Homo sapiens: one gene and its partner. The protein of the gene in region 1 purifies or fractionates together with the protein of each later gene. This does not show direct contact. Each region holds a gene or a part of one and is shown on either strand. Other genes may lie near its edges. The genes, in order: PKIG and TYMS.

What was found.
Region 2: the proteins of PKIG (region 1) and TYMS purify together in Homo sapiens (affinity purification with mass spectrometry; 2 studies listed by BioGRID and IntAct, with this or other methods). This does not show direct contact.

Annotation. Positions count from the first base shown.
Region 1 is NC_000020.11:44,573,966-44,589,720, reverse strand, and holds the start of PKIG (cAMP-dependent protein kinase inhibitor gamma), read right to left. Parts: upstream 7,143-15,755; 5' UTR 6,990-7,142; intron 4,622-6,989; exon of another isoform or gene 4,517-4,621; intron 1-4,516. UniProt on the Homo sapiens protein: Extremely potent competitive inhibitor of cAMP-dependent protein kinase activity, this protein interacts with the catalytic subunit of the enzyme after the cAMP-induced dissociation of its regulatory chains.
Region 2 is NC_000018.10:650,204-665,960, reverse strand, and holds the start of TYMS (thymidylate synthase), read right to left. Parts: upstream 8,309-15,757; 5' UTR 8,219-8,308; coding exon 8,014-8,218; exon of another isoform or gene 7,670-8,013; intron 6,321-7,669; coding exon 6,247-6,320; intron 3,816-6,246; coding exon 3,641-3,815; intron 2,976-3,640; exon of another isoform or gene 2,956-2,975; coding exon of another isoform or gene 685-2,955; exon of another isoform or gene 1-684. Other genes in the region: ENOSF1 (mitochondrial enolase superfamily member 1), read left to right, coding at 685-2,955. UniProt on the Homo sapiens protein: Catalyzes the reductive methylation of 2'-deoxyuridine 5'-monophosphate (dUMP) to thymidine 5'-monophosphate (dTMP), using the cosubstrate, 5,10- methylenetetrahydrofolate (CH2H4folate) as a 1-carbon donor and reductant and contributes to the de novo mitochondrial thymidylate biosynthesis pathway.

The DNA of each region.
Region 1 (15,755 bases):
GACAAGTTGACAATATCTATTAACTTGTTAAATGTGCATACATATCCTTTGGGGTCAAATTCCTAGACACGTCACATTCCTGAAATGTCCAGGAATTTATACTACAGATATATTTACCTAAGTAAAAAGATACTCAGTGAAATACTGTATAGTAGCAAAACCAAGGGGCGAAAACAACTTAAATGTCTATTAATAGAAAAATAGTTAAATTATGGTGTATCAATATCATGAGAAACTATACAGCAACTTCAAAGAATGAAGGAGATTTCATTGTACTGATGTGGAAAAAAGTACATGCTTGATTGTTAAAAAGCATATTGTAAAATTGCATATATTATCATTTTTTAATTAAAAAAAGAACTTTACATTTTCTTTTTAATTTTAAGAGACCAGGTCTCACTCTGTCCCCAGGCTGGAGTGTACTGGTGCAATCATAGCTCAATGTAGCCTCAAACTCCTGGCCTCAAGCAATCATCCACTCTCAGCCACCTGACTAGTTGAGATTACAGGTGTGAACTACTGTGTCCTGCTCAAATGTGAACATGATTATTTATGTTTAGAAAAAAAAAAAGTACAGCATTTGTGTACGTGCACATTTTTAAAAAGTATACATACTTTACACTTTAAACAATTTTCAGTATATATAGAAAAGGGCAAACTGTAACCAATGGTTCCCCCTGGGAAACTTCTCTCTTTTGAAAAAAATTATTCTCTTTTGAGAAATTGTGAGAAAAGAAATGAAAGACTTTCACTTTGTACATTATCTATTTCTGTTTTGATTGAAAACTTTTAAAGAGGCATGTATAACTTTCACATTCATTACACATGCTATGCAAAAAATTCTATATCTAGCTAACATATCAAGTGTGAGGGCAAAAGATATTTTCAAACAAAGACTGGGCAAGTTTACCATTCACAGACCCCAAGAATATTCTCCAATAGAAAGGAAACTGAATACAGAAAATAAGTGAGATTTTTAGAATCAATAATGAGCAAAGGAAGGAATAATCCAGCACCCTTCTTTACTCCCTCTCCCTCCTTTACTCTTGGTATAAGTGACTCCATTTCTTTTTTTTTTTTTGAAAGTCTCACTCTGTCACCCAGGCTGGAGTGCAATGGCACAATCTCAGCTCACTGCAACCTCTGCCTCCCAAGTTTAAGCAATTCTTCCGCCTCAGCCTCCCAAGTAGCTGGGACTGCAGGTGCGTGCCACCGCGCCCGGCTAATTTTTGTATTTTTTTAGTACAGACGGGGTTTCACCATGTTGGCCAGGCTGATCTTGAAATACTGACCTCAGGTGATCCACTCGCCTTGGCCTCCCAAAGTGTTGGGATTACAGGCATGAGCCACCGCGCCCAGCCCTCTTCTCAGTTTGAATACCACCTTTTCAAGGAAGACCCCAGCCACACTCTCCTCTTTCACTCCCCCTGCTTATTGACTTCTTAACGCCACCATTTGTGCTTGTAAACTTCATGCAGGTAAAGGCCATGCCTGTTATATTTAACATCATCCACCTATCACCTTGCCCAGTGCCTGGCGGATATTAGGTTCTCAACAAATATTGGCTAAATACATGAAAAATTTATTGAAGGCTCAGCTCAAATGCTACTGCTCCTCCAATCTCTTAGGCTTTCTACAGGACTCTGTCCCCATCTTGGGGCACATTTTCACAATGTGTTCATGTTATCTGAGTCTTTTTTTCCTATCCGGCCATGAGCAACCTCAAAGTCTTATTTACCTCGACATTCCCCACCGCACCTTGCATAATGCCTAACACATAAAGGGTTCTTAGCAGTAGATGAATCTACACACACGTCCAGGAAAGTATAAATGATGGCCGCAGGCTCTAACCAATTGCAGATAGTAGTGATTGGAGCCCACAACACAAGCACCTTTGAGATATGCAAACAAACATGAGACTTTGCCCAGGGAGAAATTAAAATTAGAGCTAAACTTGAAATACAGCGGTATGTGGGTGGGGGGATTGGGAGACAGGCCCTTATTCAAAAACAGAGAAGTGAAATCACTGAGTGATGATTTATTTTAAGTGTGTTTTTCTGTACTATCTAGCTTTTCTTCCCTTGAACATATTCTAATTTTGCAATCAGAAAAAAAAAATCCACAATAAATGTTATAAAAACAAACCAACGGAAAATCAGTGGTGATTTTAGACTACAAAAGTCACCCGTCCCTCTGTTTCCTTACTACAACTTTGGACTTCAGATTCAGGGCCCTCTCAGGTGGGGCCCATACATTTTGTAAGGAAGTGTTCTTTCCACCCCTCTGAAGCCACGGGGGATAGGAAGGTGCCAGAAATGAGTGCTTCAGCAGGGGCAGCTCTCAGTTGCTCCCTAATGCAAATGCTGGCAAAGCTCCCAGAGCCAGGAATTGTAGGGAGAGAGCAGAAGGAATCAACCCAGCGCAAGATCAGGACCTCCACAATATGCTGATCCAGTGTCTGGTGTTTTGTAGCACTTGTGCATATTTCTTTTGCAGTACTTTTCACGTGCCATTAAAATTATTCACTCCTCTGTCTATCTTCCCTTGTTGCACAGAGAATTCCACAAGACCAGAGGCAGTGTCTTTACCCTGGTCCTCTAGTTCAGTGCTTAGTACTAACAGGTCCTCAATGTACATTTATGGAATGTTAAAGACTACACTGATAAAGTACTAAAACAGTAACTGACCTAGGTTCCTGGGACATAGTAAGAATACACCAAATACTTTCTTCGGTGCCATGAAGGGCCATTATTCAGTTCTGAAGAGTCAAGCTAAAGCCTGTAATTTCTTGAAACATTAAAGAGACTTCTTTTTGGAAATGCAGCTTCCTCCAGTAAGAGCGGATACATTATGTGTTCTAATCTGCAATTCATAATCAGTCAGCATAGGAGCCCACGGCAACTTCCAAAGAAACCACTCTTTGAAGGAGCAGTACTCCAAGTTTTCCTAAGACATTTCTGAAGGATTTCCAGGAGGTAGTGAGCTCAGCCTAGGGTCATGATTAATAACCTGTTTCCCAGAACTTTAGATTTTCCACCTCAGTCTCCACTTAGGAATTGCTTCTGGCCCCTCGTGAAAGCATTTGGCAGAGTTAATTGGGCCAGTTCAGCTTCTTGTCTGTCACAGCCAGCACCTGTTACCAGCTTCTTCCTTAAGTGGCTGGGCTAGGGTCCTCTGGTCCCAAGAGAATAGCACCCACTTCTGCTTTTGGCCTCAGCACTGGCTGGCTGATTTGAGGTTCAGCATCACTTGACTGGGTGACAGGAAATAATGCTGAGGCTTGGTTTGAAGAGCCAACATGGCAGCTCCAGGGTTCATCACAGGGGTTTCAAAATGATGAGTTCAAAGATAACTTCTGGTTCCTCATGCAAATGCCATCCTATGTCTGAGGGGGCAGATGCCTGTGTACATTGGCTGACATTCTCTTTCTGGAAATTGAGAGCAGCTAATCCTAAGCATGTATTTTTGTACTAACTAAGTGCTTTATGAGCCCTATCTCATTTCATCCGCATGGCACCCCTTTGAGGTCAGTATGACTGTGACCCCCCACTTGACAGAAAGAGAAGTAGGTTCTATAAAGTGAGGTGATCAGTCCAGGATCTCCCAGCTAGGAGGCGGTGAAAGCAGAGCTCTTACCTGCTATCCCCTTCCAATTTCTCACTGAACTCGAGAGCTCTCACCTGCTGTCCCTTTCCAATTTCTCACTGAACTCAAGAGCTCTCACCTGCTATCTCTTTCCAATTTGTCACTGAACTCTAGAGCTCTTACCTGCTATTCCTTTCCAATTTCTCACTGAACTCGAGAGCTCTTACCTGCTACCCCTTTCCAATTTCTCACTGCCCTCTAGATTGTCTAAATCGAAAGAAACGGTAGACACCAACCAGATGCAGGGCTGCAAATTCCCACAGGGGCCAGGGGCCAGGCAGGAGACTAGAGGGCACAGGGGAATGCGCAAATGGTAATGAACTGGAGAACACACCTGCCTAAAGGCATTCAAATTAAAAACAAAACACCACTCTGACTTCTGACTAGAGTTCACTTGTCATCATTTAACAGATGGAGCAACTGAGATCCAGGGAGGTGATATGAAAAAGGCACTGCAGTATGGTGAAATATTCAAGGGCTTCGGGGACAACCAGTTCTCATTGGGAACTCAAGCTCTAGCCCCTGCCAGCTGTGAGACTCTGGGCAATCCACTGCACCTCTCTGTGCCTTTCTTAGGTGTAAAATGGAGATGATCTCTGCCTCACATCATTGCTGTGAAGATTAAGAGAAGTCAGCATATGCAAGATGCCCAGCCCTGTGTGTGACATTTATTTCAGGAAGATACCAAAGCCAAATGAGATCTCTGGACACATCTTTTCCACAACCTACCTCCACTCCCAAGATGCCCTAAACTCACTGCCGGGAGTGACTGAGGTGGGAGAGATCAGCAAACACACACTGATAACAGGAGCAACTTTGACACACAAAACAAGAACTGAAAGCCACCCTCATCTGGTACATGAAGGCCTACCTAGTTGAGGAGTGTGAGGCATTCCACATTTCCACTCTCCACTTCCTGGCAGGGACCACAAAGTCTAGGTACCTTCCTTCCAGAACATCACCTCCTCACCACCACCTTAGGAAAAAGGATGCCTTTTTTGATTACCCCAAATCTCAAGATCCCAGCGGGGCTGGGATGAAGCAGAGGATGCCCTGGCCTTCCCACTGCCCATGCCCATGGGTGGGTCCATGGCAGCAACAGTCCACCTTCATGGGATGAAATGCTGGGGAAGACTGCAGCTTTAGAAGTGCCAAGAGACCCCATCTCTACTAAAAATACAAAAATTAGCTGGGCGTGGTGGCAGGCGCCTGTAATCCCAGCTATTCGAGGGGCTGAGGCAGGAGAATCCCTTGAACAAAAACGGGAGGTGGAAGCTGCAGTGAGCCAAGACTGCACCATTGCACTCCAGCCTGGGAGACAGAGTGAGACTCCGTCTCAAAAAAAAAAAAAAAGAAGTGCCAAGGGCCTTTGAGAACCCTCTTATTAACTAGGACCTTAATTCAAACAAATAGTTTCTAAATACCACAACTTCCTGAGGATTAGGGTCTCTGATGCCCTTAAAGAAAACAAAACAAACAAACAAAAACAAAACAAAACAAAGCAAAAACCTTAATTTGTCAAGACCCGGCACCTTGGAAACTCAAAATTCAAGATCTGACGTCTTTTGCTTTTTTTTTTTTTTTTTTGCACTCTGGCTGTGGCTATCCTTCCCTTGTGGCAGGAGAGGGTGGCTCTATGTTAAATGATGAAAGAGGGGCAAATAGAGGGATTTTCCCCCTTCTTCTCCCTCTTTCTTGCCAAATGAGGAACTAGGATGGCGGGCTTTAAGTTTAAATTAAGTTGTGTCTCCTTTGTACCTATGTGCCAGGCTTTCTACTAGGCAGTGGGGCATAGTGATGGGCTAGACAGACACGCAGAGAAGGTGCAGATGGTCTAGTGGAGACATGGGGAATTGAAGTTATGCCAGTAATTATGTAAATACAGTTTAGTTCAGGATAATATGAAAACATATAAGTAGATGGTTGTCCTCAGTCAATGGGGTTAGGGAATAATACTGACCATCTAGTGCTCTGTAAAGGGTTGAGCATAACATAGGGCCTAGTGCTTAAGAGATACTCAATAATGCCAATTCCTTCTTTCCTCTCTCCCCAAGTGTATGTGCTAGTGTATGCGTGTGCACATACAGTTACCACTGAGACTTTTTCTTTCTCTTTCTTCAAGAACACCTAATCTGAAAAAGACCCATAAAAACTCAGAAGTAACTTAATGTTGCCTGTTTTATGTCTTCTTTTAACTGTCCTACAGGCACCCGTTTTTAGCTACTCTGGGAAACTGAAAACCTAGGGTCCTTTGCTCCTAAAGCCATAAGGGCCCAATACAAAGGGAAAAGAAATATGGACAGTTCATTTCATACTGAATTTGGAAATACAGAGATCATCTAGTTTTGTCCCCTCATTAGGTACAAATAAAGAAACAAGACCCAGAGAGTGTGAAACACTTGCCCAAGGTGACAGTTTCCTTGGGTGACCCTTCTAATATATGGTAGCTTTTTGTTGAAGCTGAAATCTTCCCGTTAGCTGTAACTTTTCAAATATACTTAACCTGCTAAGAGGGGACACCTCCCCTGTTAGCACACTGCAAGCCATCTCAAGCCACCTAGGAATCCTCCTCAGTTCAGGGACCCACCAAGTAAGGGACCTGGGTACAGCAAGGGCCCCCTCTTTCCCTCTCTACAGAGTAGCTTGCTTAGTTTCAAACCCTGAAAACAGATACCAACAAATAAAATGCCTAAAGGCTTACATGTCCTGTTTATATTCCAGGCATAAACAGCAAATTTTTAAAAGGAAGCAATAAAAAGATCGCAAACCCAAGGTTAAAGATTTCCAACCCCTTTCCATCTTGGAGTTTTCCACACAGCTGCTGCAGCACTGGGTTTATATGTGGTAAATTCATGGAGTCTGACCATATCTGTAACTGAAATTTAACACAACAACCATGTTCCTGAGGGGGAAGATAATAGGGAATTTTCACTACTTTCGGAGACTTTTCTTTCTAGAATGTTTAAAAATTATTATACCACCTTTGTAATCAGAAAAAAAGAAAGGGTTTTACAAACACGAATTTCTTAGGGAAGATTTATTTCTTCACCTATATTTGGAGCAAGGAGCTGCTTTTAAAGCTCTGAATACTCTGTCAAAGTTCTTTGAGTAAAAATGAAACAGCATCTGAATGGAGCCCATTTGTGAGACTGGAGGCTCCGACTAGCCTTAGGCAGTTTCAGACAAGGCCATAATTTTCAGAGCAAGCTCACATATATCATTATATAAAAATAGACATTTTGTGGCCAACAGGCTGGAAAGCAAGCTCTCCAGAGAGCTCTGCCTCCAAGCTCTGCTTCTCCCTGGGGGTGTTGGGCAGGGGAGGAGAGTAAAGTTCTACTTACAAGACCAAAGTTTCCTCAAAATCCAGTGGTCCTCAGTCAGAAGCGGAGGCAGAATTTAAGAAACCAGGATTCAAGGTTAGCAGTCCAGACCTGTGGTGCGGGCAGGATTCTCACTTTACCCTCCTCTCTGTCTCTTCCCCGTGTCTCCTAAATGAAAAGCACTTTGAGGTTTTAGTGGGTGTTTCCCATGTCTCGGGCCAAGTAAGTCCCCATTTGTTGTAATCCAATGCTCAGCCTGATGATGTCAACCACACAACTCACTCACTCAGTTTCCACCTCTCTGTCCACAGGAGAGATCCATTTCCTTTGGACAATGAGCCAGGGGGCTGTAACTGCATCCCAGGCCACCACGCTTGCCTAATATCCTTCCTTCAATTTTCAACCCTGCAGCTTTAGTGACAAAAGGCTTCCTATCCACTCACTGAGCCAGGGTTCCTGGGTAAATTCCTTTGCTTCTTAGTGGGTTGTCTGCTTTCCTGTGTGTTTAATTCCTTTCTTTGGTATATAATATACTAGTTAGGGTGGAGATCTTCACCCCACCCCACACCCATCTCTTTCTTCCTGCCCAATTTTCCAAGTTGTTTCATTTCTCCCAGGTCTCCTAGGTACATGCTGGGCACAGTACATGAGTTTGTCCTTCATGTAGGGGAGGTGATGTGTGCCCCCGGGGAAGGCTTGGAAACAGCACTGGTGTGTCCCCTGGGAAACTGGGTTCCAGTCTTGGTCAGGCCTTCAACTGAATGAATGACCTCAAGCAAGTCACATCCCTCTCTGGACCTCAGTTTCCCTATCAACAAAATGCTGGCTTTGGTGCTTTCCACTTCTGAGATTCAATGAGTAAAAATCAGTGACTGGGGAACTTATAAACAAATGCATTATAGAGCATTTTACTACAAGCTACCCAACTACATGCTTGAGGGAAGGAAGAACCCTGGAGAAGTCAGAGGCCACTGCCCAAGATGCCAGGCTCAGCTGGGCACCTTTAACCCCCTTTATGAAGGAGATGAACAGATTCTCTGGGAGTAAAACCAAAAGAATTCACTGAACAAGTCCTTAGGGACATGAAAAGCAGCAGCATAAACTACAAGATAAGACAAACAAGTAACAGGCTATAAGTGTCCTTAGGGACCAACATGGAACAGCAGTGGTTACGAGAGATCATTTCTTGCATTTGGAGAGTGCTTGATGGTAAAGACAAAGAACATCTCTCTACTTTCGTGTACAATGGGGAGCGAGTGACATGCATAGTGGTTAGGAACATCATTTGGGAGCCACAGATGTGGATCTGAGTCCTGTCTGACTTAATTTCTCTGAACTTCAGTTTTTTTAACTGTCAAGTGGGATACTAGTGCCTCTGTTTTAGGATTGTGAGAATTAAAAAACACATGTAAGGAAACTGAAAGTATTTGGTACATACTAAGTATTGAATAAATGTTTGCTCTCGTTGTACATAATCTCATTTGATTCTCATAACATCCTTAGGAGAATCAGATAAGTGCTATGAGGCTACATTATTAATCTCTCCTTCCTGGATAAGAAGACATATACAGAGAAGTTAGGTGACATGCCCAAGGTCACACAGCTCAAAACGAAAGGGACAGAATTAGAAATGAAGCCTCAACTCCTAACTAGGTCAGCACACATGCCACACACATGCCAATGCCAATGCCATTTCTCAAAGTGGTTGCCGCAGCCAGCCTGGGAAAGGAAACACTCAGGCCACTAGGTCAGAGAGGCTGCTTTCCTTGCTTTGCTACCCAAATCCTGTGTGGCCTGAAGCAAGACTGGGCTTCAACTAACTCCCTCAAAAGGAGCAGATCTGATCTGTTTCAATGCCACTTTGATGGTGATGGGAAGGTAGGACCGGAGCTTTACTGGGAAAGCGGCTCTCTATAGGTAAGGAAGAGGCTGTGGTAATTTGTGGTTTAACAAGAATTTTTATTAGTTCTCAGAAAACACAGATGCTTATCAGAAAACATCCAAGAAAACAGGCTATATTAGGAGGGAGTTTGTCAATCTGAAGGCTTTTCAACAATGTGACAATGTGACGTAGGACTGCTGTGGAATAAAAACCACACCAGCCTGGCCGGGCGCGGTGGCTCACACCTGTAATCCTAGCACTTTGGGAGGCCGAGGTGGGTGGATTGCCTGAGCTCAGGAGTTTGAGACCAGCTTGGGCAACACGGTGAAACTCCATCTCTACTAAAATACAAAAAAAATTAGTCAGGCGTGGTGGCGTGTTCCTGTAGTCCCAGCTACTTGGGAGGCTGAGACAGAAGAATTGCTTGAACCCAGGAGATGGAGGTTGCAGTGAGCCGAGATTGCACCACTGCACTCCAGCTTGGGCGACAGTGAGACTCTGTCTTTAAAAAAAAAACAAAAAACAAAAAACAAAACAAAACAAAAAAACACCAGCCTGGTAACCCACAGAGAGCAGCCGTTCACAGCTCAGAGAGATGTGGGCTTCCTTCTGGTCCCTAGACCTTCTTGCTGTGCTTTGGTTTCCCAGTGTAAAATGAGAAGAATAACAGCCTTACTCTCCAAGGTTCTTGTGTGGGTTATGTGCCTGGCACATACTATACATTGAAAAATATTTGAATACTTCTTGTCTAATTCTGACCATTTCATCATCCTTTGCCCTAATGGTGATGTGACAATGAAAGAAAGTCAGAGATTGGTCGGGAAGTCAAAAGGGTCCTGTATTTCTCCAGAATGTCACGATGAGTAATGAACAAAAGCCCACCCAGAGCTGTAAGGCCTGTTCTCAGCAGCAACACTCAGTTTGGAGGGACTGGAGGTCAGGGCTATTGTTTGGCTGAGCCTTTATTCCAGAAGACTGAGTAGGTGTCAGGAAATGAGGCTGGGCTCTTGAAGATGGGTGCTTTGAATCATGTTTTGTTACTTGAACAAAAATAATAGTAAGGAGCCCATTCATAAAAACAACATCATTTTCTTCAACAACATGTACTCTGTATCACTTCCCTTGTGAACGGAATAATTCTACGTCTGTGACAGAATCCCGGAAGACAGAACCATAGCAACACTGGCACATTCATTTCTTCTTATAACTGACAATACTGGACACACTTATGTGGGCTGGGGCCAAGCTGTGCACTGAGCACTCTATGAACACCACTTCATGTCATCCTCACAATAATCGGGTGCAGGAGACATTATTAATATTCACATCTTACAGCTGTAGCAACAGATGCATGGTGAGCCGACCAACCTGCTCAAAGGCTCACGGGAGCAAGGGGCAGAGCCTGCACTCTAACTAGGGACCATGTGGTGCCAGTCCTGAATCCACAACCCCCTTGCACTACCACCTCTTAAAGGGCTTCCCTTCAGGAAACTTGGCTGTTTTTCACAGACAGCAGCATCAGCTCCATTTGAGGATGAAGGAAACTTTGGCTGTTTAATTCCACCTTTTACCCCCAGTTTAGAAGGGGTCTCTCCTTCCTCTGAATTTCCTTAGTATGCTCTGTTTCTCTCTTAAGAAACATACCCTTTTCTCTGATGACACATATTTAGTTGGGGGCAGGTCTTTTTTCTCTGCCAGAATCCTAACTTTTTAAGGAAAAGATCTGTGTCTAATATAGCAGCATTTTGTACATATTATGAGATACTTATTAAAATAAGGAAATCCATAAACAAACCCCAAAACTATTATTGTATATTTACCATATGCCAGGTAATATTCTGTTTATTTTATTTATTTATGTTGTAGAGACGGGGGTCTCACCATACGCCCAGGCTGGTTTTGAACTCCTGAGCTCAAGTGATCTGCCTGCCTTGGCCTCCCAAAGTGTTGGGATTACAGGTGTGAGCCACCGTGCCTGGTTGTATTCTAACTGCTTTATATAAATTACCTCATTTAACCCCATAAGGATCTCTATGAGGTAGGTATAATTATTATCCCTGCTTGACACATGAGAAAATCACAGGCACAGATTGATTAATTTGTTACGCAGTGTTAGTCCGTTTGCACTGCTATAAAGGAATACCTGAGGCTGAATAATTTATGATGAAAAGAGGTTTATTTGGCTCACAGTTCTGCAGACTGTATAAGAAGCATGGCACTAGCATCTGCTTCTGGTGAGGCCTTAGGAAGCTTTTAGACATGGTAGAGGGAAAGGAGAGCCGGAATGTTGCATGGCAAGATGGAGAGCAAGTGTGAGAGGGAGAAGTGCCAGGTTCTTTTTAAACAACCAGGGCCAGGCACAGTGGCTGACGCCTGTAATCCCAGCACTTTGGGAGGCCAAGGCAGGCAGATCACCTGAGGTCAGGAGTTCAAGACAGCCTGGCCAACATGGTGAAACACCGTCTCTACTAAAAATACAAAAATTAGCTGGGCATGGTGGTGCACACATGTAGTCCCTTGCATTTTTTTTTTTTTTTTTTTTGAGATGGAGTCTCAGGCTGGAGTACAGTGGTGCAATCTCGGCTCACTGCAAGCTCCGCCTCCCAGGTTCACGCCATTCTCCTGCCTCAGCCTCCCGAGTAACTGGGACTACAGGCGCCCACCACCATGCCCGGCTAATTTTTTTGTATGCTTAGTAGAGATGGGGTTTCACCGTGTTAACCAGGATGGTCTCGATCTCCCGACCTCGTGATCCGCCCACCTTGGCCTCCCAAAGTGCTGGGATTACAGGCATGAGCCACCATGCCCGGCCAAAATAATTTTTTTTAATTAAAAAATAACCAGTTCTCACTTGAACTAACCGAACAAGAACTCACTCATTACAGCAGGGAGGGGATCACGCCATTCATGAGAGATCTGTACGCATAACCCACACACCTCCCACCAGGGCCCACTTCCAACACTGGGGTTCACATTTCAACATGACATCCAACAGCTATCCACCAATATAGTTAGACATCCAAACTATATCAGCTAGCAACTGACGGATATCTGTTGAAGGAGTATATGAATAAAGAAATTCTGGCCACCACTACCCACTTTCTAGTCCACACAGCTGCTGTACAGTGCAATCGCTCATCACCCATCAAAGGCAGGTTTCAGCTGTCATACCATTTCCAACTCACTTATTCACTGTGCCATGCAGTTAGAAGGTCCATGCTTTTTCTAGACAATTAATTGAGAAGTATATTGATTGAGATTTACGAATAAAAGTAGATTTTGTTTTCTTCCAATTATAATCATAATTGCTTATTGTAAAAAGATAAGAAAATACAGAAGAACAGGAAAAAAGAAAGGAGAACAATACATCGTCTCACCACAATCCTGGTGTAAGGCCCCAGAGAAGGAACCACACTTACACTTAAAACAATGTTCTTGGTCAAGCACGGTGGCTGACGCTTGTAATCCCAGCACTTTGGGAGGCTGAGGCGAGCAGGTCACTTGAGGTCAGGAGTTCGAGACCAGCCTGGCCAACATGGTGAAACCCTGTCTCTACTAAAAAAAACACAAAAAAATTAGCTGGGCGTGGTGGTGCACACCTGTAGTCCCAGCTACTCAGGAGGCTCCCAGCTACTCGGGAGGCTGAGGCAGGAGAATTGCTTGAACCTGGGAGGCAGAGGTTGCAGTGAGATGAGATCATGCCACAGCATTCCAGCCTGGGTGACAGAATGATAATCTGTCTCAAAAAAAAAACCACACACACATACACACAATGTTTTGAAATCAGAAACTTAAGTCATTTTTGGGGGATGGGGAATCAAACCCACAAAAGATGACTAAGACATTGCTCAACGTATTTTTTTGGTTTTGGAGTACACGTGGCTGCTTTTTCTTCAGGGTTCGATGTCCTGAGGATCCACTTTGTGGTCCCCTTTGGACTGCTGATTTGGTGTGTCTGAAGGAGAGCCAGAAGGAGAAGAGAAGCCTGACCCCAGTGATTATGTGGCTAGAAACTGGATAGGTTCGCAGGATATCACACTGTCCCCTCCCTGCCTTTTTTCAAACCACTTCCCACCAGCTTGAGATAAGTTTCCAACTACAGCTGTTTTGGGAGAGATGGACCTTCACTTAAACAGTGACCTTAACTTTAAACAGTCTTGGACTCATTGATTTTTGCAGCTGAAAGGAGCATGTGGTCTCCTCATTTTAGGGGTGAGGAATGCCAGATCCAGAGAAGGCAAGGGACTATCCTGAGGTAGTACAGCCTGGTGCTCCAACAGGAGAAGGTTTGAGGCTCTCACTTGCTACTCTCTATTGGTCTCAGACTCTCACTTGCTACTGCACTTTGACATACAAATTTGAAGGGCTCTTCCCTCTTATTTTGGTTAACTCCTACTCAGCCATCAGATTTCAGATTAAATATCACTTCCCTAGGGCGCCCTTTTCTCTGAGCCACGTTAGCTCCCCCTGCTGTACTGGTCTCATGGTACTCCTATGTCTCTTCTTATAACCCTTAACATATTTATAAGTACACGTTCCATGTGTTTCCCCACCAGACTGTAAGCTCCACAAAGTCAACAGTATGTCTCCTTGGTTCACTGAATACATCTATCCCAAGTGCCTAGAAGAGTGCCTGGCATAAAATAGGAAACTCAATAAATATTTTCTAAACACACACACACACACACACACACACACACACACACACACACTCTACTTAGTCCAGTCTATGGTAAAACATTAACATACTTTTTGTAAAAAGCACCACGTCTTCTGAACTACAAATTGGGCCTTTTTGCTGAAGGAAGGATCATTAGAGAACAAGGGATTTCATTTCAAATAATTTCCGGAAGATAGAAAAAGTTCAGAGAGGTATGACAACAGAAGCTGAAGTTTGGAGCACAAGGACAAGAAAGCACCATTGGAAATGAGAGACAAGGAATGGTGTGGGACCCCAGGGAGGCTCTGAACCTGAAGACAGCAGGCGTCGAGAAGATTCAGAAGGGCCAAAAAATTAAGGGATCCACTGAAGGTCCTGTGCCAGCCAGCTCCTCTATCCCATACCTGCAGCACACAGAGGGCCCAAAAGCTCTGCAGAACCACAGCCAAAGACAGGAGGCCTCTTTAAATAAATTGAATGAACTGCCTAGGATTGATCGAGGGCTTCTAGTAAGAGACTGGCCTCCTTATGCTAACACGTGAAGGGCCCTCAGTCTAACTGCTGCTCCTGCTCATGTGCCCTAAAGCATCTTCCACTTAGTACCTTAGTACCCTTCCAGTACCCAGCAGCTTCCCAGGCAGGGCAGAGGCCTATGGGACAAACAGATGAACTGAGACCTATCCCCTTAAAGAAGTCTTTTATTATTGATTGTGAATGGCCAAATAAAGCATGACAGGATGTCTGATCAAAACCAGCTGCATGACAGGAGTTTGAGACCAGCCTGGCCAACATGGCAAAACCCCATCTCTACTAAAAATACAAAAATTGGCTGGGCGTGGTGGCAGGTGCCTGTAATCTCAGCTACTCCGGAGGCAGAGGCAGGAGCATCGTTTGAACCCAGGATGCAGAAGTTGCAGTGAGCCGAGATCATGCCATTGCACTCCAGCGTGGGTGACGGCCAGCCTCCGTCTCAAAAATAAAAATACAAAAATTAGCCAGGCATGGTGGCGCATGCCTGTAATCCCAGCTACTTGGGAGGCTGAGGCAGGAGAACTACTTGAACCTTGGGAGGTGGAGGTTGCAGTGAGCTGAGATGGTGCCACTGCACTCCAGCCTGGGCAATAGAGCGAGACTGTCTCAAAAACAAACAAAAAACTGATGAGTCAAGAAAAAGCAGTATGGTAATGTGAGGTCCTTGTTTGGATCTGACTAGAACTAAAAAAATAACTTATGAGTTAAATGGAGACCACTGCTAATAATAAAGGATTATTAATTATTTTATGTGTGATAGTGTGGTTATATTTTTAAAAGGAGTCCTTATTCTCTTAAAAGTACATGCTAGGCTGGGCACGGTAGCTCACGCCTGTAATCTCAACACTTTGGGAGGCCAAGGCAGGTAGATCACCTGAGGTCAGGAGTTCGAGACCAGCCTAATATGGTGAAACCCTGTCTCTACTAAAAATAAAAAAATTAGCTGGGCATGGTGGCGTGTGCCTGTAGTCCCACCTGCCTGGGAGGCTGAGACAGGAGAACTGCTTGAACCAGGGAGGTGGAGGTAGCAGTGAGCCAAGATCGTACCACTGCACTCCAGCCTGGGTGACAGGCGACATTGCAAAAACAAAAACAAAAACAAAAACAAAAACAAAAAAAACATGCTGAAGTAATTACTGATAAAATGATGTCTAGAATTTACTCCAAAATAATCTAGTGGCAGGGGAAAATGGCTACCAGCACAGATGAAACAAAACTGGTCATGGGTTTTTGATTTTTGAAGCCGGGTAATGGGTGGTACATGAGGATTCATTATACTATTCTTTCTAGTTTTGTACATGTTTCAAAATTTCTGTAATACAGTTAAAAAAAACCATATCTCGATAAGCATATTATTTAGATATAGAGAGATAAATGCTAGATCAAACGCCTAAAAGGATCAAAAGTGTATGCCCTTGGGAGCAGGATAGGAGGAAGGGTAAAGAAAGGGTGGGGGCAGGGAACAGATGGTTTTTATTACAAATCTTTTATGATATTTGACCTTAAAAAGACTAAGGCAAACTATGTGCATGTACCTTTCTGACAAAAACAAAATTCATTTAAAAAAGGAAATGGGAGTAACATTATTTAGAGAAATAGAAGTAACCACCAAAAGAAGTAAAAGCAGAAAAATAAAATGGCTGCCTCAGGGTGAGGGGTAAGCAGGAGACAGATGCCTTTCTAGACTCAGAGACTTTTTAAAAAGTCATATTCA
Region 2 (15,757 bases), on another chromosome or scaffold:
CACCTATTCCAAAATTGACCACATAGTTGGAAGTAAAGCTCTCCTCAGCAAATGTAAAAGAACAGAAATTATAACAAACTATCTCTCAGACCACAGTGCAATCAAACTAGAACTCAGAACTAAGAAACTCACTCAAAACTGCTCAACTACATGGAAACTGAACAACCTGCTCCGGAATGACTACTGGGTACATAACGAAATGAAGGCAGAAATAAAGATGTTCTTTGAAACCAACGAGAACAGAGACACAACATACCAGAATCTCTGGGACACATTCAAAGCAGTGTGTAGAGGGAAATTTATAGCACTAAATGCCCACAAGAGAAAGCAGGAAAGATCCAAAATTGACACCCTAACATCACAATTAAAAGAACTAGAAAAGCAAGAGCAAACACATTCAAAAGCTAGCAGAAGGCAAGAAATAACTAAAATCAGAGCAGAACTGAAGGAAATAGAGACACAAAAAACCCTTCAAAAAATTAATGAATCCAGGAGCTGGTTTTTTGAAAGGATCAACAAAATTTATAGACCGCTAGCAAGACTAATAAAGAAAAAGAGAAGAATCAAATAGACGCAATAAAAAATGATAAAGGGGATATCACCACCAATCCCACAGAAATACAAACTACCATCAGAGATTACTACAAACACCTCTACGCAAATAAACTAGAAAATCTAGAAGAAATGGATAAATTCCTTGACACATACACTCTCCCAAGACTAAACCAGGAAGAAGTTGAATCTCTGAATAGACCAATAACAGGAGCTGAAATTGTGGCAATAATCAATAGCTTACCAACCAAAAAGAGTCCAGGACCAGATGGATTCACAGCCGAATTCTACCAGAGGTACAAAGAGGAACTGGTACCATTCCTTCTGAAACTATTCCAATCAATAGAAAAAGAGGGAATCCTCCCTAACTCATTTTATGAAGCCAGCATCATCCTGATACCAAAGCTGGGCAGAGACACAACCAAAAAAGAGAATTTTAGACCAATATCCTTGATGAACATTGATGCAAAATTCCTCAATAAAATACTGGCAAACCGAATCCAGCAGCACATCAAAAAGCTTATCCACCATGATCATGTGGGCTTCATCCCTGGGATGCAAGGCTGGTTCAATATACACAAATCAATAAATGTAATCCAGCATATAAACAGATCCAAAGACAAAAACCACATGATTATCTCAATAGATGCAGAAAAGGCCTTTGACAAAATTCAACAACACATCATGCTAAAAACTCTCAATAAATTAGGTATTGATGGGACATATTTCAAAATAATAAGAGCTATCTATGACAAACCCACAGCCAATATCATACTGAATGGGCAAAAACTGGAAGCATTCCCTTTGAAAACTGGCACAAGACAGGGATGCCCTCTCTCACCACTCCTATTCAACATAGTGTTGGAAGTTCTGGCCAGGGCAATTAGGCAGGAGAAGGAAATAAAGGGTATTCAATTAGGAAAAGAGGAAGTCAAATTGTCCCTGTTTGCAGACGACATGATTGTATATCTAGAAAACCCCATTGTCTCAGCCCAAAATCTCCTTAAGCTGATAAGCAACTTCAGCAAAGTCTCAGGATATAAAATCAATCTGCAAAAATCACAAGCATTCTTATACACCAATAACAGACAAACAGAGAGCCAAATCATGAGTGAACTTCCACTCACAATTGCTTCAAAGAGAATAAAATACCTAGGAATCCACCTTAAAAGGGATGTGAAGGACCTCTTCAAGGAGAACTACAAACCACTGCTCAATGAAATAAAAGAGGATACAAAGAAATGGAAGACCATTCCATGCTCATGGGTAGGAAGAATCAATATCGTGAAAATGGCCATACTGCCCAAGGTAATTTATAGATTCAATGCCATCCCCATCAAGCTACCAATGACTTTCTTCACAGAATTGGAAAAAACTACTTTAAAGTTCATATGGAACCAAAAAAGAGCCCACATCGCCAAGTCAATCCTAAGCCAAAAGAACAAAGCTGGAGACATCACACTACCTGACTTCAAACTATACTACAAGGCTACAGTAACCAAAACAGTATGGTACTGGTACCAAAACAGACATATAGATCAATGGAACAGAACAGAGCCCTCAGAAATAACACCGCATATCTACAACTATCTGATCTTTGACAAACCTGAGAAAAACAAGCAATGGGGAAAGGATTCCCTATTTAATAAATGGTGCTGGGAAAACTGGCTAGCCATATGTAAAAAGCTGAAACTGGATCCCTTCCTTACACCTTATACAAAAATCAATTCAAGATGGATTAAAGACTTAAACGTTAGACCTAAAACCATAAAAACCCTAGAAGAAAACCTAGGCATTACCATTCAGGACATAGGCATGGGCAAGGACTTCATGTCTAAAACACCAAAAGCAATGGCAACAAAAGACAAAATTGACAAATGGGATCTAATTAAACTAAAGAGCTTCTGCACAGCAAAAGAAACTACCATCAGAGTGAACAGGCAACCCACAAAATGGGAGAAAATTTTTGCAACCTACTCATCTGACAAAGAGCTAATATCCAGAATCTACAATGAACTCAAACAAATTTATAAGAAAAAAACAAACAACCCCATCAAAAAGTGGGCGAAGGACATGAACAGACACTTCTCAAAAGAAGACATTTATGCAGCCAAAAAACACATGAAAAAATGCTCACCATCACTGGCCATCAGAGAAATGCAAATCAAAACCACAATGAGACACCATCTCACACCAGTTAGAATGGCAATCATTAAAAAGTCAGGAAACAACAGGTGCTGGAGAGGATGTGGAGAAATAGGAACACTTTTATACTGTTGGTGGGACTGTAAACTAGTTCAACCATTGTGGAAGTCAGTGTGGCGATTCCTCAGGGATCTAGAACTAGAAATACCATTTGACCCAGCCCTCCCATTACTGGGTATATACCCAAAGGACTATTAAATCATGCTGCTATAAAGACACATGCACACGTATGTTTATTGTGGCACTATTCACAATAGCAAAGACTTGGAACCAACCCAAATGTCCAACAATGATAGACTGGATTAAGAAAATGTGGCACATATACACCATGGAATACTATGCAGCCATAAAAAATGATGAGTTCATGTCCTTTGTAGGGACGTGGATGAAATTGGAAATCATCATTCTCAGTAAACTATCGCAAGAACAAAAAACCAAACACTGCATATTCTCACTCATAGGTGGGAATTGAACAACGAGAACATATGGACACAGGAAGGGGAACATCACACTCTGGGGACTGTTGTGGGGTGGGAGGAGGGGGGAGGGATAGCATTGGGAGATATACCTGATGCTAGATCATGAGTTAGTGGGTGCAGCGCACCAGCATGGCACATGTATACATATGTAACTAACCTGCACATTGTGCACATGTACCCTAAAACTTAAAGTATAATAATTAAAAAAAAAAAAAAAAAAGAGTGTGAAACGGCCTTCATGAGGCTTAATTGTGGCTTAACCTGGCACCACCCCTCACAAGGTCAAAGCTATACATCAGCTCCTGTGACATTGACTCATCCCCCAGACCTTATCTAAAACAACGGAGCAAACACATGCTAGGAAGGGCACCCGGGAAATGGAAGGCATTGTTCTATCTCCTCACCTGATTCCATATCTCTGTATTCTGCCCCAAAATGCCTCCACTGGAAGCCATAAACTGGGCCCAAGTCCCCTTCTTCTCTGGTGGAGAATCCCAGGCTGTCCAAAAAGTCTCGGGATCCATTGGCATCCCAGATTTTCACTCCCTTGGAAGACAGCTCTTTAGCATTTGTGGATCCCTGGAAGAGATGGGGAGAGCAGAGCAGGCATCCAGGTAAATCCTAAGCCATCTCAGTTGATCCCCCCGAGACACCACTTACAAGGGCCTCTGGCCCCTGCTGACTTGCTAGGAGGTGGGCACTTGACACCACCCATATGGAACCCATCCTTTTTTTTGTTTTTTGAGAGTTTCGCTCTTGTTGCCCAGGCTGGAGTGCAATGGCGCGATCGTGGCTCACGGCACCCTCCACCTCCCAGGTTCAAGCGATTCCCCTGCCTCAGCCTCCCGAGTAGCTGGGATTACAGGCATGCGCCACTACACCCAGCTAATTTTGTATTTTTAGTAGAGACAGTGTTTCTCCATGTTGGTCAGGCTGGCCTCGAACTCCTGACCTCAGGTGATCCGCCCACTTCGGCCTCCCGAAGTGCTGGGATTACAGGCGTGAGCCACCACACCCAGCTGCCCATCCTATCTTTAAGTAGGCTGGTCCCAGCCCAGATTCCTGAGGGCTTTAGGACAGTCTGATCCCTTCTTTGGAACCACCCTCCCAGATCTTTTCTTCCATTCCCCTCAACTAAGCTTTTTAGGCTAAACACCTCCAAGTGCTTTTAAGTATTCCACCGATCTGACAGTTTTATGTTTCTTAATGAAATGTGTTGTCTATATGTAATACCCCAAAATGAATTTAATGCCTACATGCAATCTGTTCAATGTATCTTCTACCTGGCATACAGGATATTCCTAATGATCAGACTAATCAGTATTTTACAGTGCAGGTGCCTCAACTCCTGTATTTGATCGAGTCACCAATGGAGTAACTCCAACTATCAAGGTGAGTCTGACATTCCTGGCAAGGATTCCTTAGAATCCTGAATTGAAGCATTAAGTTGAAACAGGGGAATGCATTTTATTTCTGAGTATCTTGCTTCCTCCCTTTCTATTGTTGAGTTTGTCCCGATTTTCTTTGATTGAGAAAGAATCAAAGAAATTTCCAACAAATCAAAGAAATTTCTCCAATTGAGAAATTTCCAACAAATCATTTCTCAATCTTTTACATATTGCTTCAAAAGTCTCTCCTTTTCATCCATTCAGACCAGGCTCTAGCCAGTTTAAGAATGTTGTCTTCTGAGGTTTCTGATGATATGTTTCAAATCCAAGGTTCATTGTTAGTCAAGATAGGCCAATACAGAACAAAATACCCCAAGAATACAGAGCTAAGGCAGACCTGGGGCTGGATCCAAATTGAAGCCCTTTCTAAAATGGGATAAGAGGGCTTGGGTCTGGCTTGCCCCAAGACCATACAAGCCATACCAAGTGCTCTATAGAAGGGATCCCAGCTTCTAGTATGGCCCAGACCTGAGCCCAGACCTCAGCCACCTTCCAAAAAGCACTGGTCAGAAAGAACATCGCTGGTTCTAGACCAGGACACGGAACACAGAGAAGCTTGGTCTGGGCTGCTGCCTGTCTTCACAGCACTCTGGCCCCGGCCTGAGGTACCTACTCAGCCCTCTGGAAGGGGTTCACCTTGTTACTGAAGAGACTCTTCTAGAATTTATATGAACATGGGAACACAGGTGGTATCTACATTTAGTGATCAATATATGTTGACTCCTACTATGTGGCAGGCTGTGTTTGAGGCCCTGGCGATACAACAGTGAACACGAGAAACAAATCCTCTGCCCTCATAAAGCTTACAGCACATTTCACTTTTACTACCTGCTGTCCCCCTTCTAACAGGGGAAGGGAAAGGCTGACATACATCAGATGGTGATGTTCGTCTATGGAGAAACACCAAGGAGGTTGGGGGAGAGTCACAGTTTTAAATCAGGAGGTCTAGGAAGGCTTGCCCGAGTGGAGTAGAGACTCAAAGGAAGAAGCCAAGTGTGGGGGAAGAAGGTTCCAGGGAGTGGGGATGTCCCGGTGTGCTCAAAAACTCACAAGAACAGCAGGGCTGGTGCAGAGAGCAGCAGCTAAGGTCAGAGCTGAAAAACGGACACCATAAGGACCGTGGCTCTTACTGAGTGAAATGGAGCCACTAAGGGCTTGAGGGTGAGGAATGATATGCTTTGACCTTTGGTGGTGTCTTTTTTTGTTTTTGACATGGGTTCTCCCTCTGTCGCCCAGGCTGGAGTACAGTGCCACGATCTCAGCTCACTACAACCTCCGCCTCGTGAGCAATTCTCATGCCTCAGCCTCCTGAGTAGCTAGGATTACAGACATGCACCAGCACACCTGGCTAATTTTTTGTGTTATTAGTAGAGACTGGGGTGTCGCCATGTTGGCCAGGCTGGTCTCAAATTCCTAACCTCAGGTGATCTGACTCAGCCTCCCAAAGTGGTGGGATTACAGGCGTGAGCCACCACACCTGGCTGCTTTGAGTTTTGAAAGGATCTCACTGGCTGCTGTGTTGAGAACAGACTACTGACTTCTAATAGCAGCGACTTCTTTACCTTGATAAACCACAGCAACTCCTCCAAAACACCCTTCCAGAACACACGTTTGGTTGTCAGCAGAGGGAATTCATCTGAAAAACAATTTGCCATACGGTTTCAAGATGGGAAGACAGATCATGCCATCCAACTTTCTTCAGGGAAGAAAACTGCCCTGGGACGTGAGGCCCTGGAGCATCCAGAAAGCCTAGACTCCCGCAAAGTGGGCCAGAGATCACGGTGGAGCTCCCAGGCTGCAAGTCCCATCAGTGGCCCGATTCAGGCTGAGACAGCACTTCTGTGCCCCGGTGACCAGTGGACACAGGAATTCCACACAGTGAGATGGTGGCGAGGGCAGGGATGAACATGTGGCAAAAGGGAGGAGCTATCATCCACTGCCCACTAGTGCTAATCCTGTCACAAAGGTGTGAAGACAACACCAAGCATGTGTCCCAGGAACAAAAAGGGAGGCATCAGAAGTGTCGAGCCACAGAGAAATGAAAGTGTAAAAACTTATCTTTAAATGCAGTCCTCGTTCATCCGCACTCGCTTGTGGTACAGTTTATATTCAGACAACAGAGAGATTTTTGCAAGCACCTGCTTTTATCAGAATTGCCTACTAAGCATTATTTTCTCCATTTTTAACATATAGGGAAGCTATATGAGAAGTAACTTGCTCAATGTCTAAGCAGAAAGGTGGGTTAAAAATGAGGTCTATGGCTCATCAAAGGCCCCTGGGCTTGGAGCTGCAGAAAAGTGGATCCCTCTCCTCAGACAAAACTCCCCACGCTGTCCCACGCCAATCAGCCACAGCAGCTGCTATGTATTCGTCTCTAGATGGGTCCGTGGGCCGGAGGGCTTTTCCGCTAGCTACAGTGAATCTGCTTCACCACGAATGGGTTTCCCCATTCAAAACCACCTCCACCCCTGTGTCAAGGCTGCGCTCCATTTATCTGAGCGGTCAAGGTCAGCCCCTGGCTCACACACCTTCGAGTCCCCTCCCCCGCGCAGCTGGCGCAGGATCCAGGACGGCAGGACGGTGTGGCCTTAGGGAGGGCCAACGGCTGCCTAACGTCCTGTGCCCACCCCGCCCCGCCCCACTGTCCCCTGAAAGCCTGGCGCCAATGACCCGCGAGACATTTTTTGCCTGGGGTGCTCCTGTCGGAAAGGAAAGAGGAAAGGACGACTAAGAACTTATACTCGAACTCCCGAATTTCTCTTTTCAAGGTTTAAGAGGAAAGCTGGTTCGTGGGGATTGGATGGGAGGCCACCAGGAAACCAAGTTCCCGCGCCAGCTTCAGTGCTCTCCTCTTCCCGCCGCCTTTGCCCCGCCCACATCACTTTCGCTCCAGTTTTTGAAAACGCTGCGAAGCGGAATGGTCCACAGGGGAAAACGGAGGAGGGGCCAAAGCCAGGACTTTGAGACCGGCGCGCGGTCAAGCCCAGGCAGCTCTCCCTAACCCTCCAGCACTGGGCAAACGCTGCCCGATGACGCCCGCCTCGGGGGCCACGGCATCACTGGGGCGACTGCGAGCCCGGCCGCGGAGCCGCTGGGACGCGGCTTACCTCCCGGCTGTCGCTGCTGTGTGTGTTGCCCGCGCCAGTCACGTCCCTAATGGGACCCTCCGTTTCGGCGTCTGTAAGGCGAGGAGGACGATGCGTCCCCTCCCTCGCAGGATTGAGGTTAGGACTAAACGGGGTCCGCAGCGCCCGGCAGCTCCCGAGCGCTCTCCCCAGCCGCGCCTCCCTCCTTCCCGCCACCCGTCCCGCAGGGGCCCGCGGCGTCACCTCTCAGGCTGTAGCGCGCCTGCATGCCGAATACCGACAGGGTGCCGGTGCCCGTGCGGTCGTCCTTCCTGACGCCGCAGCGGAGGATGTGTTGGATCTGCCCCAGGTACTGCAGCTCCCCGTGCGGCGGACGCGGCTCGGCGTCCCGCTCCTGTGCGGCGGGGGGCAAGGGCCGGCGCGGCAGCTCCGAGCCGGCCACAGGCATGGCGCGGCGGGCGGGGGACGGAGGCAGGCGAAGTGGCGCGGCGGGACGGAGGCAGGCCAAGTGGCGCGGCGGGACGGAGGCAGGCCAAGTGGCGCGGTGGCAGGACCCCTTCCGCGCGCCTTTTCCCGCGGCCGTCCCGCGCTCCGCCTCTTCCTGCTCGGCGGGGTCGCGGCGGCCCCCGCTCTAGAGAGCGTGCGCCAGGGGGAAACGCAGGAGCCACGGGTGTGGCACAGAACGGAGCCCAGGGCCACAGCTGAGAGTCTTAGGAAACCCGGGAACCTGGATGCAGGTGCGGTGGCTGGGAAGGACTGCGCCCTTTGGGAACCGTCTGGTCGACCGCGCCTTCTCTAAGCCAGCAGCACAGTTCCCACGTTTTCCTGCGGTCTTGTCAACAAAACTGCTGTTTGAGATCTGTTTCCTACAACTAATAAGGGATTTGCATTTCCATTTCTTCGTTCTCACTGAAGCAACCGAAGCAAGTGGTATAATGCAGCTTTTCTACTTGATTAAAAACCGCCAGGGCGCTGGACGCGGTGGCTCACGCCTGTAATCCTAGTACTTTGGGGGGCCGAGGCGGGTGGATCACCTGAGGTCAGGAGTTCAAGACCAGCCTGGACAACATGGTGAAACCCCCGTCTCTACTAAAAGTACAAAAATTAGCTGGGCGTGGTGGCTACTTGGGAGGCTGAGGCAGAAGAATTGCTTGAACCTGGGAGGCAGAGGTTGCAGTGAGCCAAGATCCGACCATTGTACTCCAGCCTGGGCGACAGAGCAAGACTGTCCCAAAAAAAAAAAAAAAAAAAAAAAAAAGACCGCCAGGGCTTTTCCGAGGTTTTTTGTTTGAGCCCTGGCGGTCTTTTTTTTTTTTTTTTGAGACAGAGTCTCGCTCTCTCACCCAGGCTGGAGTGCAATGGTGCGATCTCGGCTCACTGCAACCTCCGCCTCCTGGGTTCAAGCAATTCTGCTGCCTCAGCCTCTCGCGTAGCTGGGACTACAGGCGCCGCCACCACGCCCGGCTAATTTTTTTTTTTCATGTTTAGTAGAGACGGGGTTTCGCCATGTTAGCCAGGCTGGTCTCAAACTCCTGACCTCAGGTGATCCACCCACATTGGCCTCCCAAAGTGCTGGGATTACAGGCGTGAGCCACCGCACTCGGCCCCAAGTTTTTAATAGACCACATTTCCCAGTTTTACTGAATTGTTTATAACATTAACACTGGGGAGTGGGAACTGTTGATGAAAAGAGTTAAACTCTGTAAAATATCTGAAGAAATTTATTCTGAGCCAAATATGAGTGACCAATGGCCGGTGATAGAGCCCTCAGCAGATCCTGAGAACATGTCCCCAAGGTGGTTGGGCTACAACTTGATTTTTTATACATTTGGTTGAAAGAATTGTTATCTAAAGATCTGGAATCAATAGAGGGCTGGGCGCGGTGGCTCACGCCTGTAATCCCAGCACTTGGGAGGTCGAGGCGGGCAGATCACGAGGTCAGGAGATTGAGACCATCCTGGCCAACATAGTGAAACCCTCTCTACTGAAAATACAAAAATTAGTGGGGCGAGGTGGCACACGCCTGTAACCCCAGGTACTCAGGAGGCTGAGGTAGGAGAATCGCTTGAACCCAGGAGGCGGAGGTTGCTTGCAGTAGCTGAGAAAGCGCCACTGCACTCCAGTCTGGGTGACAGAGCCGTATGGGGAAAAAAAAAAAAAAGATTTGAATGAATAGAAAGGAATATCTGGGTTAAGATAAGGGGTTGTGGAGACCATGGATTCATCATGCAGATTAAACCTCCAGGTAGCAGGCTTTAGAGAGATAGATTGTAAATGTTTCTTGTCAGACTTAAAGAGTGTGTTCTACCTGTCTTGAGGCCTGTGTTGATGTCAATGCTGGTCAGCTGTGCCTAAATTCCAAACGGAGGAGGGAATAATGAGGCATGTCTGGCTCCCCTTCCCATCATGGCCTGAACTAGTTTTTGTGGTTAAATTTGGAATGCCTTTGACCCAGAGGAGTGGTCTTTTCAGATGGTTCTGGGCGTAGAATTTTATTTTTGGTTTACAGAACGATTTTATAATGAGTTTAAAATGCACTGATACATGTGTTGTACTTGCAAGCATCCTTTTACCTCAACGGTTGATTGAGTACAGAGGTGCTCTCAGCATTTTGGGTGGGACTTTTCTTAGCTGGACCGGTTTGTTCTGCACATTGCAGGGCTTTAGCAGGACTGTGGAAAGCCAACCATATGTTGGCATTCCCCCACCCCACACCAGCTGAAAACTGTCCCTACACGTTTCCCTACACGTTTCCGAGCACGAGGAAGATCCCAGGCTGAAAATATTCCAGATTATCCAGATGCACGTTATCTGTGTTTAATTTCCTTGTGTTATTCTTTTTCCTTTTTTTTTTTTTTTTTTTTTTTTGAGGTGGAATCTTGCTCTGTCCCTCAGGCTGCAGTGCAGTGGTGCTCAGCTCACTGCAAACTCCGCTGCATGGGTTCAAGCAATTCTGCCTCAGCCTCCCAAGTAGCTGGAACTATAGGCGCCTGCCACCATGCCCAGCTAATTTTTTTTTCTTTTTTTTTTTTTTTGCATTTTTAGGAGAGACAGGGTTTCACCATGTTGGTCAGGCTTGTCTCAGACTTCTGATCTGAAGTGATCTGCCCACCTCGGCCTCCCAAAGTGCTGGGATTAAAGGCGTGAGCCACCATGCCCAGCCTTACTTGTGTTATTTTTTAAAAACCTGATACATAATAATTGTGAGGTAGACAGGGCTTGACTCTGGAGGCAGGGCTCTGACATGGGACCAAATTGAGGAGTAGTCAAAACAAGGATGGGGCAGAAGTAGTTTTCCATAAGACGTGCCCACCAGTGTGCCATGTCAGTTTACGATTGTCATGGCAACATCCAGAGCTTACTGCCCCTTTCCATGGCAGTGAGCCGACAACCGGAAGTTACCACCCTTTTTCTAGACATTTCTGCATAATCTGCCCCTTAATTTGCATGTAATTGAAAGTAGGTTATAAATATCACTGCAGACCTGCCTTTAAGCTACTGCTGTCAGCACACTGCCTATAGGGTAGCTCTGCTCTACAGGGGCACTCAGGGAGCTGTTGCCATATCAGTAGAGCTTTTCTTCTACCAGGTAGCTCTTAAATTCTTTCCTGAGCAAAACCAAGAACCCTCCTGAGCTAAGCCCAATTCTGGGCTCACCTGCCCTGCATCAGTTGCACATCCTTGTGTGTTTTTTTTCTTTCTTTCTTTTTTTCTTTTCGACGGAGTCTCGCTCTGTCACCCAGGCTGGAGTGCAGTGGCAGAATCTCAGCTCACTGCAACCTCTGCCTCCCAGGCTCAAGCAATTCTCCTGCCTCAGCCTCCCGAGTAACTGGGATTACAGGCACCCATCACCATGCCCAGCTAGTTTTTGTATTTTTAGTAGAGATGGAGGTTCACCATGTTAGCCAGGCTGGTCTCGAACTCCTCACCTGAAGTAATCTGCCTGCCTCGAGCCTCCCAAAGTGCTGGGATACAGGCGTGAGCCACTGCACCCGGCCCCTTGTGTTATTTTGAGGCTGGTTTATTTGTTTCACCCAAATACCAGCTAAATCACATCTCAAGACTAGGCTCCTCTGCCCACATGGAGCTTCCACTTCTGCTGCCTTCCTTGAGTATCTTGGCTTGATAGTAAAGACAGAATGGTTCTTTTCAAAGTAGTTACTCCATAAATGTTGGTTAGAATGAATGGTTCTCTCAGACAAATTTCATTCATTCATTCATTAACACACATTTATATCATGGTGCCTTCCTCATGTCTACAAACAGCAAGACAGACAAGGCCCTTTTCTTCATAGAACTGATATTCTGGCAGTGACAAACACTACAAAAGTAACCAAACAAGACATCTGCAGATAGTGACAAGTGTGATGATAGTAAATTAATGGGTATAGCACTAAACAGTGATTGTGTAGAGGGTGCTTTAGATCTGATCACCAGGAGGCCTCATTGAGGAAGTCACATTTGAGCTGAGACCTGAATACTGGGAAGAAACCAGCAGGGGAAGATCTGGGGAAAGAACATTCCAATCAGCAGGTGCATTTATACCAGTAGGTGCCACAGTGCTTGCATCTATAAAAACATCCCCCAATAGGGACGGTCATGATGCTTAATCCTGTCTTGTTCTAGGAAGAAATAATAATTATTAGTGGATACGTTAACTTATTGGAGTATAAAAAGCTCTTCCTTCTCATTAAGAGATATATTTGTTTAAAATTTTACTTTTATATGTTTAGTAGTCATAGAAATTTGTAGTATATTTATGTTATTTTGATCAATTATGTACAAAAAATAATTATAATGATCACCCAATCTAGAATAAATATTTCATACCTAGAATTTGATGTCACAGGATGTTCTTAATTTTTAAAATTTAAAAATGATCAAAATTGTGTTGATCAACAAAAGATATTTAAGCATAAAAATATACTACATTAGGATAAAATTCTTAGGAATGTAGATTGAAATAAGAGTTTAGGGAGAAAATGTAATGAGATAAAATTTCTCATTGTTAAAGAAAAACTTGTATATTTGTTTAAATGGATGATGCTGGGTCAAATTGCGATGATATTTAGATTCCATTTGGTACATTTTAAAGAGGGATGACCTGCTAATCTTTACGATGCGTGGGAAAATAACAATTTGCTATTCTTTCAACTTATATAGAAAAATGACATGCAAGTATGTTGCAACTTTTTCAGTTTCCTTTGAGGAAGTATGAGAGCAAAAATATTTGAAAATTATTGGTCTAGAAAAACCTTCCCTTTACAAATTCAAACATGTAGGTAAACTTAGGTAAAGGAAAGCAGAAAATTAACGTTTTTGAGAGTCAATTATGAATCAGTTACTTGATAATATTATTTTTTATTGTTGCTACTACCATCTATCAATGAGTATCATGAGCCACACATTATGGATTAATGTAGTTCTCACAACTACTCTATAAAACACAAACTTTTACAGTAGTTTCCCCTTATCCACGGGGGATATGTTCCAAGACCCCCAGGGGATGTCTGAAACTGCAGATAGTACTGAACCTTATACATACCATGTTTTTTTCCTATACCTACATACCTATGATAAAGTTGAATTCATAAATTAGTCACAGGTAGAGATGAACAACAATAACTAATAATAAAATAGAACAATTATAACAGTATGCCGGCATCCCTATCTTGTGCTTTGGGGCCATAATTAAGTAAAGTAAGGGTTCCTTGAACACAGAAAGGGTTCCTAAGAGAACAATTTGGGGAATGTAGTCATCGTGGAGCCACTGGACAAAGGGAGCATTCACCTCCGGAGAGGAAGGGGTCAGGGACAGCATGAGATTTAATGGCATGCAATTGAAAACTTACTATGTATTTCTGGAATTTTCCACATAATATTTTAAAACCGCAGTTGATCTCGGGTAACTGAAAGCTTGGAAAGCAAAACCACAGATTAGTGGGGCACTAGTGTACTTTAATTACCTTATAGATGACACTGAGATTAAGGATCTTGGCCAAAGTGACACATCTGGAGAATATAGTAGCCAGGATGAAAATCCAGTTCAGCCTGCATGCAAAATCTTCTTTCCATTTAGCTGTTTTGAGCCTCACTTCCCCCACTCTCTTTCCACTCTATAAGCTTTTGATAGCTCATTGGATAGAAAATAGGTTCTCTTAATCACTTATTTTTTTGTCACCTTCACTAACAAATATTTAAAATCTATGGTTGAATAGACTGTATTTGAGATTTATTGCACACCGAAGAACCCAGGATTCTATTAGTTCCCTGCCAGGAGCAGTGGCTCATGCCTGTAATTACAGCACTTTTGGAGGCTGAGGCGGGCAGATTGCTTGAGCCTGGGAGTTTGAGACCAGCCTGGACAACATGGAGAAACCCCATCTCTACTAAAAAAATACAAAAATAGACGGGCATGGTAGTACCTGTAGTCCCAGCTACTCAGGAGGCTGAGGTGGGAGGATCACCTGAGCCAAGGAGGTCAGGCTTCAGTGAGCCCAGATCATGCCACTGCACTCCAGCCTGGGCAATAGAGTAAGACCCTGTCTCAAAAAAAAAATAACATAATTCTCATTTTTTATAGCCTTCAGTTATGATTTAGAAAAGGTTTATCTTCATTTGGAGTTAATTATATTCAATTGGCTGCCTCTGAACTCTAACTTTCTCTGACAAGCCTTTCTGTCAGATAGATCAAGACTGGGTGAAAAGTTCTTTAAAAGTTCAGAGTTCTCTCTCTTTCATTACGTTTCTTTTATATATTTATTTATTTATTTATTTATTAAAAAAGAGTCTCGCTCTGTTGCCCAGGCTGGAGTACAGTGGCACAATCTTGGCTCAGTGCAACCTCTGCCTCCCAGGTTCAAGCAATTCTCCCATCTCAGCCTCCTGAGTAGCTGGGATTACAGGCATGCGCCACCACACCTGGCCAATTTTTGTATTTTTAGTAGATACAGGTTTTCACCATGTTGGCCAGGCTGGTTTCGAACTCCTGTCCTCAGGTAATCCACCCACCTTGGCCTCCCAAAGTGCTGGGATTACAGGTGTGAGGCACCGTGCCTGGCCTACATTTCTTTTTATAATTTGTAATACTGACTGTATATACTCTCATTGTAATCCTTAGTGATATATACTGACACATAGCTCTCCTATTATTGTGTTGCACCAAGGTCCAAATTATGAGGTTGAGCGTCAGCCAGGAAAATCTTGTGTTTTCCATAAAATACGTATGTCAAAAGACAGCGCTGTTGTGCCAATTTTAAAAAGTAACTATGTAGCACACCCACGTTCAAAACAGCATTATTCACAATAGCCAAAAGATGGAAGCAACCCAAGTGTCCATCAATGGCTGAATGGATAAGCAAAACTAGGTAAATACATGCAAGAATATTAGCCTAAAAAAGGAAGTTCTGAGACATGCAACAACATGGATGAACCTTGAAAACATGGCACTAAGTGAAATAAACCAGTCACAAAAGGACACTGTGATTGCACCACTGCACTCCAGCCTGGGCGACAGAGTGAGACCCTGTCTTAGAAAACAAAAAACAAAACAAAACAAAGCAAAAGACAAATACTGTATGATTCCACCTACATGCAGTACCTAGAGTAGTCAAATTCATAGAAAGTACAGTCGTGGTTGCTACGGGCTGGGGGATGGGGAAAAGGGAAGTGAGTGCTTAACGAGTACAGAGTTTCAGTTTAGGAAGATAAAAAGGTTCTGAAGATGGACGGTGGTGATGGTTGCACAGCAACGTGAGTGTACTTAATGCCACAAATTGTGCACTTTAAAATGGTTAAAATGGTAAATTAATGCCATGTGTATTTTACCACAATTTAAAAAAAGACTATACAGAACCTATTGGTCTTTACAAAACAAAGCAATGAATCTTAGATTTTTTTCCAAAAAAGTCAATTATATATATTTTAAGTGCAAAAGCAAACTAAAGGAAGAACATTTTGTTAATTAGGAAGTGACATGTTTGTAGAT